2 separate regions of the Homo sapiens genome follow, and region 2 is linked to region 1. A link means that fine-mapping ties the variant in region 1 to the expression of a gene that starts in the linked region. Tissue or cell type: prefrontal cortex. Region 1 holds a variant in brackets; the other region holds the start of a gene. All regions are shown on one strand. Distances are from middle to middle.

What was found. PIP is the estimated chance that this variant, and not a neighbour inherited with it, causes the effect.
Region 2: SIRT3 starts here. The variant in region 1 is fine-mapped to the expression of SIRT3 in prefrontal cortex (GTEx, PIP above 0.99).

What each region holds. Positions count from the first base shown.
Region 1 is chr11:207,202-215,201 of GRCh38, reverse strand. BET1L (Bet1 golgi vesicular membrane trafficking protein like) reads left to right here and starts at 7,803. Exons shown (of 4, transcript NM_001098787.2): 1 at 7,803-7,899. The coding sequence starts at 7,881. It overlaps RIC8A (RIC8 guanine nucleotide exchange factor A), which reads right to left and starts at 7,494. Exons shown (of 10, transcript NM_001286134.2): 1 at 6,264-7,494; 2 at 5,884-5,931; 3 at 5,202-5,795; 4 at 4,540-4,631; 5 at 3,853-4,003; 6 at 2,691-2,786; 7 at 2,443-2,587; 8 at 2,221-2,365; 9 at 1,784-1,903; 10 at 89-972. The coding sequence starts at 6,347. The coding sequence ends at 852. It overlaps SIRT3 (sirtuin 3), which reads left to right. Exons shown (of 7, transcript NM_012239.6): 7 at 1-172. MIR6743 (microRNA 6743) reads right to left here and starts at 5,866; the gene lies at 5,796-5,866. RefSeq lists enhancers at 5,626-6,213, 6,288-6,907, 6,883-7,052, 6,908-7,529 and silencers at 6,112-6,221, 6,292-6,581, 6,582-6,780, 7,842-7,961. The variant G/A (reference allele first, on the strand shown) is at 4,187.
Region 2 is chr11:232,829-240,828 of GRCh38, reverse strand. SIRT3 (sirtuin 3) reads left to right here and starts at 4,487. Exons shown (of 7, transcript NM_012239.6): 1 at 4,487-4,781; 2 at 7,295-7,486; 3 at 7,614-7,846. The coding sequence starts at 4,501. It overlaps PSMD13 (proteasome 26S subunit, non-ATPase 13), which reads right to left and starts at 3,853. Exons shown (of 13, transcript NM_002817.4): 1 at 3,685-3,853; 2 at 1,753-1,831. The coding sequence starts at 3,779. RefSeq lists enhancers at 3,602-3,841, 4,002-4,191 and a silencer at 4,342-4,421.

The DNA.
Region 1 (8,000 bases):
GATCCACCCACCTCGGCCTCCCAAAGTGCTGGGATTACAGGCATGAGCCACTGTGCCTGGCCCCTTTATTTGATAATTTACACATACATTTTTGTCCAAAACTCTTCTTTATTTCAAGATGATGTTTCTGTGGCTATGTGTGGTATGTGGTATAAATCTCAATCTATGGTCACACGAGGGGCATTTTCCTTGTTGTAAGTGTAGTCTAAACCAGTAGGAAGGAGGTTTAATTGCCAAAACCAGCGAGAACTCGGGCACTGTGGATACTACAGTGGGCAGCTGAACGAGGACCAAGGAGAATGTCTAAGAGGCCTCCAGCCCTGCGCTCAGTGAAGACAGGACAGGAACAACAGAGCATACATACCTTGGAAGGGTGTGTTCTGATATACTCGTATGGAAAGTTCTGACAGGTTTTCTCCCTGGGAAGTGCAGCACATACCCCAACACACTGGCTCTGCCAGTGTGCCAATCCCAGATGGTGCTTGCTTTGTGTGCACCCACACCCAAACCCCTGCCCTCCCATATGCTCTTCTGTGTGCCCAGGTAGGCCCTGCCCTCAGGCAGCAGCTTCTGAACACATTCCTCTTGGCGCAGACAAAAGAAAGTACTTCGTCTGTGGAATTCGAGGCTGAGCCTGAGTTCTAGCACAAGAAGACCGTTGCAGTCCAGAGATGAGAAACTGGACCAGAGGCAAATCATGAACAGAACGGGAGTCAAGAGAAGGGGTTTCTAAGATGGAGAAGTGGGGGCGGGTGTGGATCCAGTGGGATGTGGCTTCCCCAGGTTGCAACCCCAAGGAAGTCTCTGGAAGCAGCACCAGTCCTGATGGGGGAGCAGAAGAGCTGCCATCCTCAGTCAGGGTCCGAGTCAGGGTCCGAGGAGAGCTGCTGCTCCATAGTCTCGCACATGGCATCCTGCAGGGACGTAAGATGACCCCGGGGACTCATCCCCATTGGCTGGATGACTCTGTTCCTGTTGGGGAAAGGTGCAGTGGGGCTGGGGAAGGGGCCCAGTTGGCCAGGCAGGGGTCCTACTCACCCGTGGCTGCTACCTTCCTCTCTACCAAGTAGGCTGCTCCCATTTACTGGGGAAGCCTGGTTGGACCTTCTGTTAACTGGGCCCAAACCCTAACTGCTGCCTCCTGGCTTTAAGCAGTTTCCTATTTTAAACATCTAAATTGGCCTTAAGCAGGCTCTTAATTTGGACACTGGGCCATCTCCAATAAATCTGGCGACATTAGTCTCTTTTTTTTTTTTGAGACGAAGTCTCACTCTGTTGCCAGGCTGGAGTGCGGTGGCACAATGTCAGCTCACTGCAAGCTCTGCCTCCTGGGTTCAAGTGATTCCCCTGCCTCAACCTCCCGAGCAGCTGGGACTACAGGCGCCCACCACCACGCCCAGCTAACTTTTTTTTTGTATTTTAGCAGAGATGGGGTTTCACCATGTTGGCCAGGATGGTCTCGATCTCCTGACCTTGTGATCTACCTGCCTCAGTCTCCCAAAGTGCTGGGATTATAGGCGTGAGCTACCACGCCCGGCCTTAGACAGTCTCTTAATTTCTCTGGGCCTCAGTTATCATCTGTAAAAGGGGCACAATACTGATCTCAATATACCCATCCCCTGGGGGATTTCCTCCAGGGCAAGTGATTTCAAACGTGAGCAATGCAACCTAATACCAGGATCCTAAGCTCTCCTCTGATCCTACCTCCTGGGGCTCACAAGACAGGATGTGGGTCAGCTCTCCCTTCTCCCAGCTGCAGGCCCCTCCTCCTCATGCCACACACCTGGAGAGCTTGTCAAACATGGTCACCAGCTTCATGGCCTCGTGCTCCTTCTGCTCCTCTGTCATGCCCTCCATAGGGTTAGGCGGCTTCTCCTCCACCCTCCCGGTCACAGGGTTTATGCTGTTTCCCAGTGGGTGGAATGTGGGGAATGCATTAGTGACTCTCCAGGACAGGAGGCAAGCCACCTATTTTCCCAGTGGGGTGAGGTGGGCAAGGCAACTGCAGGAAGAGGCCTCCCTCCAGAAGCGGCACAGGTAACCAGCTCCTGCCATCTGCCACCTTCTGGTATCCCAGATAGCACTTAGGAACAGGTGCTTGATTCTGGAAGCTCTTGCCCATTTGTCATCCTGTCCCACCCTACAGGGGTCCACATGGGTGTGGAAGCAGGGACTATGGGGCTGTGAGTGGAGACCCGAGGGTGTGTTGGGGGTACACACCTGGCTTTGGCTTCCTTGTACTCATCTGTGTCTGTGTCCTCATCCTCTGAGTACTGGCCCTCGGGCCGGCCTCCTGCCATGAGGCCCCTGGCAGCCAGAAGGCCAGCAGCATTCCCATAGCCTGTGTACTTGATGAATCGGGGCACTGAGGGGCAAGGCAGAGGTCAGTGTGCAAGCCTGGCTGAGGTGGGGTGGGCTGGGACCTGGGTCTCCATAACTCACCACTCTCAGAGCACAGGACAAACAAGAACTCGGCAGCCACCCTCTTCACATCTGTGTCCAGGTGTGTCATGAGGCGGACAAGCTTGTTCCGCAGCATCTCCCCAACCTCAGGCCGTGTCCTCACATCCCGCAGAGGGGGCAGCACCTGGGGAGGTGGCCATCCCTAAGCTTGGGCTTAGAGCAGCCAAGGGTCTGTGATCAGGGCCGAAACCACATCCCCCAGGAGCACCAGCTCCTCAGCCTTATACCTGGGCCTTCAGGAACTTCCTGGCTGGGCGGTGCATCCGGGCACATTCAGTCAGCACGCTCAGCACGGGAGCTACACTCTCCTTCAGCCTGTGTGTCTGTAGAGGATTCTCTGTCACTGGGGCTATGCCCCTGCCTAACTTGTGACTGGCACAGAGTTACACCTCCCCACCACCCCTTCCCACCAACATACACAACAGCTGGTCCTGGCGGCAGAGGTTTGGGAAGAGGCCCCTCTGCAGTTAGTCAGCAGAAGGCCAAGAGTGGGTGGTGGGTGTCTGTGTCACTTTTGAAAAGGACAGGGATAGAGCGTAACTCAGAGGTACTCGTAAGCTTTGTGACTTGGGAGAAATAACTGCTTTAAGTCTAATTACTTCAACTATAAACCAGAGCTGGGAAGAAAACACAAAGCAATTAAAGCTTTAGACTCGCACACACATTGCCCTCAGATGTTGGTGGCAAAAAGAAACGAGAACCGAATCCCCGCTCTGTGTACTTCGTGGACAGAGCAGGGAGTTCTTGACCCTCCTAGCATAATGTGCCTGGACCCCAGCACCAGCAGTGGCAGCGACGGGCACAGACAACCCCCTAGCTGTGTGTCCAGTGCCAGCTCCCTATCCTGACTGGCTCGCAGGCACCTTGTGTGTCCCTTGCTTAGGCAGGTAGATTCCCAGGAGGTCTACTAAATCTCGGTTTATTGTACTCCAGCCTGCTTTCTGCAAGCTCCTGGAAGATGGTTAGAGCCCCAGCTGTCCAGATGCCCTGTAGTGCAGTCACAGCAATCAGAAGGAAGCTTTGATCTGAGGTTCCTATGGGTCTCCTCAGGATGCTGAGGGACAACTATGCTTGTAATCAAGGGCTGCCTGTGTTTAAGACTTAAAAGTAGGGACTGGGGGGCTTCTCTGGACCACTCAGTAAAGATCCCCAAAGATTTAAGAAGTGAAACCTTCAAGTGTGTGGAAGGTGTCCACATGCTTCTCATGGAGGAAGGGTCTGGCTTCTTGCCAGGCTGGACCACAGAACAACCGGAAGAGTCGCCCATATCACACCACCAAGACAATCTCCACGTACCAGTGTGGACAGTGTGGAAGCACTGACCACATCTGTGCAGGAGAACCAGTGCCAGAGCCACTGGGGGAGCCTGCACAGCCATCCCCAGCCTACCTTGTGCAAACGCTTCTCTAGGAAGATGAGGAGGGCACGAATCACATCCATATTCACTCCCATGAACTCCGTGGAGTCTCCATGTGGCTCCAGGGTGAGGAGAACATCCAGACACTTGAGGGGCAAGTTCCCCAGGAGGTTCACTGCGTGGCTGGGGACAGATGGAGGTAGGGGTTTCAACAGGGCTAATCCCTGAGCACAGGTGCAATCTTTGTGACTCCGCTGAACCACACATTACATGAGCTGGCATCTGAGTCCCAAAGGGGCAGCGCTAGGGACCAAAGCCAAGGGCAGGGACTGATCTGAGAGGCACTGCCACTCAGCTGTACAGTGG[G/A]GTCCCCTGGGGAAGTGGGGGCACTGAGACACACTGCCTCCCCGACCCTGTCTGAGCCAAAGCGCCAGACCATCTCTGGAAACCCAGACCAGCCTAGGGGCAGGTAGACCAAAAACGGGGACAAGGAACCAATGTGCCCTAGTAAGTACCATACTGTTGCCACTACCCAAGGCCCAGTTGGCACATTCCTGCCCCCAAATTCATGGCTATGTCCAGTCTCACTCACCCAGACAACGTCAGACTCTCTAGGGTGGGGCCTGGGCTCTCAGGTGGTTCTGGTTCAGAGCCGGGGTTGAGGACGACCATCTAGACATGTGGGCACACTTCCCTCCCAGAAAAAGCCCCATTCTCACCCGTGGAACTCCTCTGTGCGGTCTCCAGCAGTAGCGATCATCACACAGTGCCGGAGAAGGGTCCCCAGGTGTCGGTAAAGGGCAGCGTCTTCCTGACCAAAGAAAGAAGGGTTCCTGTGAGGAGCCCCACTCATCCCACTGCTGCCTGCTGAGGCTCCACTGTCTGTTGCACTCCAGGACTGTGTGGCAATGACTGTGCACCTCCTGTACTGCATACCTGGTCCCCTGGGGTCTTCCTAGGTGACTCTGGGTAGTGCTGGGGGCAAAAGATGACCACTGCTGTCTTCCTAAAAACTCCATGAGTATTCTTCTAAGAGCACTTCCCTGATTAGGAATGCTAACACATACCTTAGGGATGAAGTCACACTCTGTCTCAGCCCCACTCACAGCCTCATGGTGGAGGATCTCTTACAGTCTCCCCAGACACCACACAGCCCTCCTGCCAGGCAGCAAGAGCCAGAAGGGGCCTCTACTTCCCTCAGAAGCCTTTCCTGAGGTCCCAGCCCAGAACTGGCATCTCCTTGGCCTTGTCCCAACAGGCTGGGAGGTCCTGTCCTCTCCATGTCTGACACCCAGAAACCTGAAGGTACCCAGTAGGAAGCAGGTCCAGGAAATGTTGGAGCTGAGTTGAGACCCATCCATGGGTTAAGGTCAGTGCTCACCTCGTCCACCTCCCCCTTGATGGAGTCCAGGGTGATGTTGAAGAGCACTTTGAGGATCTCCATGGCCCGCTCAGTCTCTTGGGAAGGAAGGAGCGTGGGTGGGGGGTTCCCTTCAGGAGTCACCCCCAGCGTCAGCTCCAGTGTGTCAGTTAGCAGGCGCACTCCTTTCAGCTCCTGAAACAGCTGCTGGCGCACATCGGTGCGGAGTGCCGTTAGCAGGAAGAGGAGCCGCAAGTCAAAGAACTGGACATCGTGGGGGAAGCTCCTCTCACGGTACAGCCCCACACGCTCTGTGAGCTTCACCACTAGGCGGGCCTCTGCTGCCAGCATCTGTGCCACAGGGCTGCTGAGCACGAGGTTGCACAGGCACTTGAGGGACTCCAGTACAACATCCATGTCTGCGGACTCTGGGACGGACCCCTCAGAGACAGAGATGTCAGCATAGCAGGCTAGTGCCTGCAGGCTCTGGCGGCTGGTGAACGGGTCCAGGCAGTTGCGGTCCCGGGACAGGATTCGGACACTCTGCAGCCAGATGACACGGTGGGAGGGTGGCAAGCCCTGTTCCAGGACGGAGACCAGCAGCTCCGCCAGTCTCTGTGGGCAGGGAGAAGAGCGGCTCCACCAGGCCCTTCTTCCTGGGGCCACCCGTCCCTGCCCCTTTACCCCTTGGGCCAGCACCCACCTTCCGGTCCTCCTGTTGGGCATCATCAAACGTGAAGCTCTGGGAGTGCTGCAGAGAGAACTAGTGAATTCAAATCCACAGAGGGGTAGGATCCGCGTCCGCTGATGCGGGCGGCCTATTGGCCTCTAACTCAGGCAGCAGCCACTGCTCAGAACGGATGGCAGGGTCGGCACTCGCCCCCATCCCTACACGCCTGCCACCCAACGGGTGCACCCCCACTCTCCCCGCAACACTGCATCCCAGACCTGCCCCCCGCACCCCGCCGCGTCCCCTACGCTTGCTGACACAGCCTCTGCCTCACCCACGCCCTCCCTGCTACCCGCGCACGACCCTGCCCCACCCCCTCCGTGCCCGCCCCCCGGCCTCAGGCGGCCGCTTACCTCCTGGTTGTATGACCGCAGAGCTTCCATAATCACATCCTCCTCACCCGTCTCCACGGCTTCTGCAACCGCCCGGGGCTCCATGGCGCGCCGGGGAAGGCGGGACGGGCCCTTCCTCAGCCGTTCCGGGCCGCAGTTCGCCGGCCCCGCCCTGGCCCAGAAAGCCCCGCGCCAGCGCGCGGGGGAGGCCGGGACGGGGCGCGGCGTCTGGTGGCGCTTTAACGGGGCGCAGCGTCTGGTGGCGCTTTAAGGGGGCGCGGCCTGAGGCAGAACTGGCGGCTCGGAGGTTTTAAGACCCGAGTCGAGGGGCTGAGTCGCTCTGAACCGAACTGACCCCTCTCCTTGTGACCCGCGCTTCTTGGGCCAGAAGTTCCAACAGGAAACGATCTCAGCCCCCACCGTGCCCTGCCACACACACAGTGACGCCCCTCGAGCTCCACAGAACCGATGGGATGTAGAGGGGAAAGCCGAAGTGGAAAGGAATTTTCAGTCCTGGGCCATTGGGTTCGTTAGGCGTTTGCTGGGGAATGCAGGCGAACGGGATTCCCAGGTCCCTGCCTTTGTGGAGCTTATGTTCCAGAGGGGAAGGGGGACAAGGAAAAACAAAAGGACACGAGGCGGTCACAGGGCTGTGCTTCAAAAGAAGCAAAAGGCGACTGCTGGGCTGCAACGGGCTGTGAGGAAGTGCTGTTTTTGCTGACACCGGACGGTGGGAAGTGAGCCGGGAAAAGACTGGAGGAGCCACTCCAGGCAGAAGGAGCAGCACTTGCAAAGGTGGAGGGGCCGAGAGAAAGGGGAGCAACCCAGTCTGGCCTGGACTCAGTTCCCTCTTGAAAAGCAAAGATCCTGCGTGTCCGTTTCAGTGGCCGTCATGAGGATTCAGTGACGCACAGGAAGCGCGATCCACTCGCTCTTCTAACAAGTGCCCGGGAGCAAAGGCGTCTACGGCCCCCAGTCCCCGCGCCGCCTCCCAGTCTCTCTCCCGGCTTCACTTTCCTGTAGTGCGTTCTGTACGGCTGTATTCGACGCGGCGCGCACTCGCAGGCACGAGCGAGGCGCCGATCTCCACTTGACAGAGGAGGCACCCCTGCCCCCACCACACCCAGTGCTCCTCGCGGGCTTCTGCCCGAGGGGTCTGCTCCTTCCTCATGACCCGCCTGTGAATCCTTCCTAACCGTTAGGACCTAACCCACAGAAGCGTCTTTCCACCACCATCGTCTAGGCACTGAGCAAGCAAACGGCCCCGCCCCGCCCCACGTTCACAGGAACACCAAACGTCACATCCGCGGTGCTGCTGTAATCCCAGCACCTTGGGAGCCCGGCAGGCGGGGGCTGCAGTGAGCTGAGATCGCGCCACTGTCTGCGCGACAGTGCTGAAAATAAGCCACAGATATGCCCATCGCTTCCGCGCCCGGCAGTTCCCCACCCTCGGCCCTAAGCCGGAAGTCAGCGAGCCCGAAGCGGAAGGGGCTGGGCTATCTAGGGGCGTGGTCGGTGCGGAGGCGGGGCCATCGCTAGCTGGGGGCGGGGCCGGAAGCTCTTTCCCCGCGACTGCGCCACGTCTGAGGCGGCTGTGGCCGCGTCGGTGTCCGCGTCGAGGAGCCGGGGCAGGGCACGATGGCGGACTGGGCTCGGGGTGAGCGCGGGAGAGCGGAGCCGTTGGGGGCAGGGCCGGGCCGAAACCGACGCCGCTGCCTGTAGAGCCGCGTGCGCCTGCCTCTGGCCCAGCTGGGGTGA
Region 2 (8,000 bases), 26 kb before region 1:
AAATAAAATGGCATTTTTATTACAAAAGACTATTTCAAAGATATCTTCCTTATTAGAAGGAAATGTTTGAACTTTCCTGACATGTATTAATCTAAAAAATTACCTTAAAAAAGAAGCCCACTAAGTCCAGAAAGTCAAAATTACTTCTGGTGACTATAAATTCAAAAATACTATCCATTTTACACTTATGCTAGCTGGATCCCAACAAATTTTAAAGGTTTATTCTGTCTATGGGAAAAGTAAACTCAGATCTGCCAACCTAAATAAACATCACCTTACCATGAGGTTGAGGAAATATTTTGTCATGTGTAGAAAAGTGATTTAAAGATAAGAAACCAAAGGACAGAGATAAACAATTATGAATCATCTATCGTGATGATTTAGAACCTTAGGGAACAAGTATTAAGACAGGTCTCAGGCCAGGCACAGTGGCTCCTGCCTATAATCCCAGCACTCTGGGAGGCCAAGGCAGGCAGATCACCTGAGGTCAGGAGTCTGAGACCAGCCTGGCCAACACTGGTGAAACCCCATCTCTACTAAGAAATACAAAAATCAGCTGGCTGTGGTGGTGGGCACCTGTAATCCCAGCTACTTGGGACGCTGAGGCAGAAGAATCGCTTGAACTCGGGAGGTGGAAGTTGCAGTGAGCCAAGATCGCACCATTGCACTCCAGCCCGGGCAACAAGAGCGAAACTCCGTCAAAAAAAAAAAAAAAAAAAAAAAAAAAGCAGGTCTCATTTATCATTTTCCCACATAATCCAGAAGACTGAATGTTCAGCAAAATCTCCAGGCTTACAGATGATTGTAAGTTCCTCTGAATAGTAAAATGTCAAATTGATGGCTATAAACCACAAGAAAATCTTACAAGCCCAGGTGGTGGGGTAGCAAGGTGGTAAGCTCTATTGCGAGCATATAAAAGTAATGTATTCAGGAGAAATGACTCAAAATGTAATTATAAGCTATCAGTTGCAATGCTGGTATGAATCTCTGATTCATTCAGAATCAGAGAAAGCCATCATAGAGTAAGATGTCAGGAAAAACTTCAAAGAGGAGGCTACCAGTGAGCAAATTCGTGGGGATGTGTCAGGGGATCTGGGGAAGGCTGGGAAAGAAGGTGCGTATTTGTCTACTGCTGAAAAAATTCTAAAAGTCCTCTATTACAGAGGCAGCATGACACTATACAGGACTCTCCCTCCAATCCACCTACCCTCAACCGAAGTACAAAAGGTGTTTTATTTTCCACACTACCCAGGACAGAAGTGTCTGGGCAAGCAAGCAGTGCGGCTTAAAGAAGGGGAGTGATGGAAGTTATCTAAGATTCCCACAGATAGTAATCTTCCTCATACCTTACTCCACCCTCTAACTGGGTTTGAACTTTGTTTCTAAAACTAGAGTACTAAAAAGAAGCCTATGAACTAAGATACTTAGGCATGTTGTAAGATAATACTTTATGCTAGAATTTCAAAAAAAGCCAGAATGTCAGTGTTTGAATCCTCTTCTGCCACTTATCAGCAGTGATCTATGGTAAGTTACTTAAAGTCTTATGTTTGCTTCTACATCAAAAAAGTGAGATAGTAGTATCTACTGACCAGCGTTGTCATGAAGGATATGTGAAGCGCTCAGACCAGTACCTGACGTAAAGTGACTGCTGAATATTGGAGCTTATTATTATTATTAGCATAAAGCCTATCTTATTTTCAAAAGTCCTTGAGCACATTCATATAATCTAATCTGGTATAGCAAATTATTTACCTTAATGAGACCATCTCCTTGGGCAAAGCACGGATCCTGCACAAAATCAAGCACCTGAAGTGTCAGCTGATGCCACAACCTGAAAAACATACAGCCCTTAAGACCTCTAACCTAATATCCAGTCACAGACACCTCCAGCCTTGATGATTCTATCAAGTCACAAATACAGGTTGGGTATCTCTAATCCAAAACTCCAAAACTCCAAAATTCAAAATGCTCCAAAATCCAAAACTTTTTGAGCACCAACATAGGGCTCAAAGGAAATGACCACTGGAGCATCTCAGATTTCAGATTTTTGATTTATGGATACTGAACGGGTAAGTATATATCGCAAATATTTCAAAATTTGAAAAAATACTAAATCCAAAAAAACTTTTGCCCCAATGCATTTCTTTCTTTCTTTTTTGAGACAGAGTCTGACTCTGTTGCCCAGGCTGTAGTGCAGTGGCGCCATCTCGGCTCACTGCAACCTCTGCCTCCCAGGATCAAGTGATTCTCCTGCCTCAGCCTCCCGAGTAGCAGGGATTACAGGCATGAGCCACTGCGCCCGGCCGCCCCAATGCATTTCTGATAAGGGATACTAAATCCATACTAACCAGTCTCTACGGTGTAGCAGAAAGAATGCTAAAGCAGATGTGATAAACCTGAGTTCTTTTCCTGGCTCTGCTATTGAATGGCTATGTCACTTTGAGATCACTTAACTTCTCTAAGACTCAGTTTTCCCAGGTATGAAATGGAGAACATTAATCTAGATTAACTCAAAGGGTTATTGTGAGGTTTCACTGGAAACGAGAACTTTGGAATCATACATATCTAACTTGAGATGCTGGCTCTTCTACCTATTAGCTGAGTATCTCAGGGAAGGCAATTAAAATGAGCTTCAGTTTCCTCCTCTGTGAAAAGGATGAATAAAGGATTAAATAAGCTAATATTTAAAACCTCAGGGACAGTGACATAGCGCTTCATCCAAAACCCAAAGGCTAATATTTAATAACGCAGATAAAATGCTTTGAAAATTACCAAGTGCTATCCAACACAAACCATTATTTGCCAAACATTAATTTGCTCTCAAAAACTGCTAATAGCAGAAGGCTGCTGAATGCTAAACATCATCAAAACATGTATGGAACATCTATGTGAAAGGTATTATATTAAATGCTAGGGTTAACAGGGAGGTTACTACAGGAGATGTATTTTCTATGGAATAGCTCCAGCCCAATGCCAGCAATTTATTCTACTCATATTAAAAGGAGGTTAGTGCTTAGCAAGAATTTAATTGCTCTGCAATTCATCCTGTTTCTAAACAAACCTAAACTTTAAGATCTTTCTAGGGGCAGAAAGCCCATGAGAAATACAATGGAAGGTAAAGACAATGGGACGGCGGAAGTGGTTGCACCCCGTGCAACCAGCTGCAGAATGAATAGGGAAAACAGCAAAGCTGTACTAGCCTCTGGTTTATCAACTCCAGACCATGAGAAAGATAACTGTAGATACAGTTACACTATGACAAGGCTAAGCACGAATCACCAACATGTTTCCCAAAGTGGGTGGTGGCCCTGAAAGTGTGTTTGCTTGTTAGATGGAATCAAGAGCTAAAATCAAAGGCTACTCCTGAACCGTTTTAGTAAGACCCGAGGTAGGAGTTCAGAAGCCTCAGTCTCAGTCCCCCGTTAAGGAAGCAGTGAATCTCAGACCGAAACATCCTGGCTACAGCTCTTGGCCCTCGTGGTCTGTCATCCCTCTTATTCCTCGACCCTGCCACTCAAGGTTCCTCAGCAAACCTTGCCGGCACAGCCGGTCGCTACACGTCCCCGTTTCCCCCCAACTTGGGTCTGGGCGCCCTCAGCCCATCAAGGGTCCGCTCCTCCGCCCGCCTGCCCCCTCCGTCTCCCTCTATCGCCGGGGCCCAGGGCCCGTCTGCTCGGCGCTCACTTCTTCGTGTAGAGCTCCTCCAGACGGTGCCACACAGCGGGCTGCCCGGGCCCGGAGTTCTGGCTCTGCTGTAGGAAGCCCGGTACGTCCTTCATGACAGCAGGAAGACCCCCGGCACAGAAGAACAACCGGGATGTCAGCACCGCGGGGATGGCTGCCGGAAATGCTCACTCACTTCCGGCGCCGAGCGGCGCGGGGCAGGCTGGGAGCGCCGTAGCAGGCCGGGGGCGGGCCCCGCTGGTTGCTCGGTTACAGCGCGTCTCTGCGCTCCGGACAAAACTCTCCGGCGTTTGCAGCCCACTTCCCGCGCACTTGGCTGTGCCATTGAGGCGTCAAAGAGTGTGGGCGCCTGTGGTCGAACCCGCTACGGACTAGCTTTGTGGTGTCAGCCTTTGTGACCCGGAATTGCTCCTGTCAAATGAGGATCTTCCCAGTAGTGTTTTGCGAGGATTAGGTGTAAATATAATGCCTGACCATAGTAAAAGCGCTCAGAAAGTATTAACTATCACCGCCATCCGGGTTGAAAAAGGTGTGAGCGCAGGGTACAGAAATGCTGGCTCCAGGTTTGACCTCCGGGGCGAGAGATGAGACACCAGACTAGGGAACTTCCTCTACTCGCCTCTACGTCTACCTGGGCGCGCCGGAGGCGTCGGCAAGGAGGCGGGGGCGGGGCGCGGAGGCGGGACCGGGGCGCCGGGGGCGGGGGCGGTAGGCGGAGGCGGGGCTGGGGCGCCGGGGGCGGGGGTGGGAGGCGGAGGCGGGGCCGGGGCGCCGGGGGCGGGGCGAGTCCGGAGGACTCCTTGGACTGCGCGGAACATGGCGTTCTGGGGTTGGCGCGCCGCGGCAGCCCTCCGGCTGTGGGGCCGGGTAGTTGAACGGGTCGAGGCCGGGGGAGGCGTGGGGCCGTTTCAGGCCTGCGGCTGTCGGCTGGTGCTTGGCGGCAGGGACGATGTGAGTGCGGGGCTGAGAGGCAGCCATGGGGCCCGCGGTGAGCCCTTGGACCCGGCGCGCCCCTTGCAGAGGCCTCCCAGACCCGAGGTGCCCAGGGCATTCCGGAGGCAGCCGAGGGCAGCAGCTCCCAGTTTCTTCTTTTCGAGGTATTTTGGGCAAGGACAAGCACTTCTTGCGTGTTCGTTGTCGACACCTCGCCCACTCTTTCTCACCTTGCCGTGTTTCCTTTGCGGCATGTCTGGGAGTTTACGTGCGTTCCAACACCGGGGCCTCCGTCTTTATGCTGATCTGTGGACGTCACTTATGGGGGTTTTGTCGTTTATTTCACCATTCCCTCATTGAAATACGTTCTAACCTTTAGTTATTGTGCATCATGCTGTGGTGAATAACCTTGTTGGCACCTCACTGTTTGCATAAATTCCTAGTACTGGGATTGCTAGGTCCAAAAGTATATGCATTTAACGCTTTAATGATCCCTCATAAATGTTGTGCGGTTAATACTCCCACTGGCATGTGATCGTACCCGTCTCCATAGTAATTGCATCTAAGAACTGAGGCTACATAGGAAAAAATCTTAAGGTCCATGGTTGTTAGGTATCAGATGCCCTATAATGGATGAATATTTAAGTAAATAATGGCACATTGACTTGCTGTCTGACACAACTGCTGAAAATGTTGGTGAAAAGTGAGTCTCGAAGTGGTAGCTCACACTTGTAATACCAGCACTTTCGGAGGCTGAGACGGGGATCGCTCGAGGCCAGGAGTTCAAGAGCAGCCTGGGCAACATAACGAGACCCCCATCTCTACCAAAAATTTAAAAATTAGCCGGGCATGGTGGCGCAAGCCTGTTGTCCCAGTTACTCCTGAGACTAAGGCAAGAGGATCCCTTGAGTCCAGGAGTTCAAGGCTGCAGTGAGCTATGATTGAGCCACTGCACTCCAGCCTGGGTGACAGAGCAAGACTCTTATCTACCTGTGGGAAAAAAAAAAGAAAAAAGTTTAATAGATCCTGAAGAGTTGGCCGGGCGCGGTAGCTCACGCCTGTAATCCCAGCACTTTGGGAGGATGAGACGGGTGGATAACGAGGTCAGGAGTTCGAGACCAGCTGGGCCAACATGGTGAAACCCCATTTCTACTGAAATTACAAAAATTAGCCGGGCGTGGTGGCGGGCGCCTGTAATCCTAGCTACTCAGGAGGCGGAGGCAGGAGAATCACTTGAACCCGGAAGGCAGAGGTTGCAGTGAGCCGAGATGGCACCATTGCACTCCAGCCCGGGCGAAAGAGCAAAAACTCCGTCTCAAAAAAAAACAAAGATCCCGAAGAGTCAGTCGTTCATCCAAGAAGCCCTGACTGAGCTCTTATTCTGTGCCAGACTCTGTTCTAGGTGCTATGGATGGAGCAGGGACCAGGACCTACAAACACGTGGAGCGCATTCTAATATCTGTGATACTCTGCAAAACTGTTAAAACAAATCCTTGCGGCCGGGCGCGGTGGCTCACGCCTGTAATTCCAGCACTTTGGAAGGCCGAGACGGGCGGATCACGAGGTCAGGAGATCGAGACCATCCTGGCTAACACAGTGAAACCCCGTCTTTACTAAAAATACAAGGAAATTAGCCAGGCGTGGTGGCGGGTGCCTGTAGTCCCAGCTACTCGGGAGGCTGAGGCAGGAGAATGGCGTGAACCTGGGAGGCGGAGCTTGCAGTGAGCCGAGATCGCGACACTGCACTCCAGCCTGGGCAACAGAGCGAGACTCCGTCTCAAAACAAAACAAAACAAAACAAAACAAAAATCCTTGCTACCACTGGCCCTAAAGCAGGAGGCATAGGGCTGCGTGTGAGGAGTAGTCCATTGCATGGGCTTCCTCCAGTTTGGCTTTGGATTTTTGAGCTCTCTGAATTTGTTGTTTGTGTCCTTTGCACAGTGTCCCTCCCAGGTTGCACCCATGCCTGCCCCTCAGGGTCCCCCACTCCCAGTGAATTTCACACCATGCAGCATGTACTTTAAGCCATACATCTTACGTATGTTCCAGACATTTGGTAAAACGCCGTTTATGTGTTTTTCAGTGACTCACAAACATTTTATTTACGTAAATGAGGAATGTACTCAGGCACCCTTCGTGATACCTTGCCCTCAGCAGGCACTCAACAGCAATAATAACTTTCATTCCTTTTGTGCTTCTCTTAACAGTTCGTGTTTAGTAGGAGCACAGTAGCTGTTTGGGGAACGACCTTAAGTGAATAGATGTCTGAAATGCTGTGTGAAGTGGGGCGCTTAATAGGTGGTGAGATGGTTTTAGAACCAGGGTTTTCCCTCTTTGCTTCTTGACTCCTTAACCAGTTTTCATTAGGAGACCCCTTTGGAGGTTTGCAGTCAGTCAGAGTTGAGTGCCTACTGAGTGTACTGAATTATGAAATGAGCACAGTTCCCATTAACCTGAATTTTTTGCTCCCAAGTAAGTCTTGATTTCTGATTTATGACTGCTTTTTGTTGTACCCCAATAGTCGTCTAAGAAAGGTGATTATTTTGAGAGGCCTGGGGAGACACACATGCTCATTCTCGAGGGTGGCGGTGGTGCAGAGGGCAGAGCCATGCTCGTTCTTGCTATCCTGAGATTGGTTGCTATCTGTTTCCTTTGCTGCTGTGTTTTTTTCTGTCAGTATTAAAGGTGGAAGAAGGTCCATATCTTTTTCTGTGGGTGCTTCAAGTGTTGTTGGAAGTGGAGGCAGCAGTGACAAGGGGAAGCTTTCCCTGCAGGATGTAGCTGAGCTGATTCGGGCCAGAGCCTGCCAGAGGGTGGTGGTCATGGTGGGGGCCGGCATCAGCACACCCAGTGGCATTCCAGACTTCAGGTACTGCCCACAGTCCCACCTGCCTTCTGCGCTCCCCTCCCCTGACTCCTGCCCTCCCCACTGCCCAGTTTATTCCACTTCCCTGTCCTCTTCCAAAGGCCTCAGAGCCTTTCTTCTCTCCCTGCAGATCGCCGGGGAGTGGCCTGTACAGCAACCTCCAGCAGTACGATCTCCCGTACCCCGAGGCCATTTTTGAACTCCCATTCTTCTTTCACAACCCCAAGCCCTTTTTCACTTTGGCCAAGGAGCTGTACCCTGGAAACTACAAGCCCAACGTCACTCACTACTTTCTCCGGCTGCTTCATGACAAGGGGCTGCTTCTGCGGCTCTACACGCAGAACATCGATGGGCTTGAGAGAGGTGAGCCCTCTGTGAGTCGCACACATTCTTTTTCTCCCACGGAGGCTCGGGTGCCTGTTTCTCCCAGGGAGGCTCGGGTGCCTGTTTCTCACAGGGGATGCTCGGGTGCCTGTTTCTGGGGACGGCCAAAACCTATCGCTTATGCTTCTTCCTT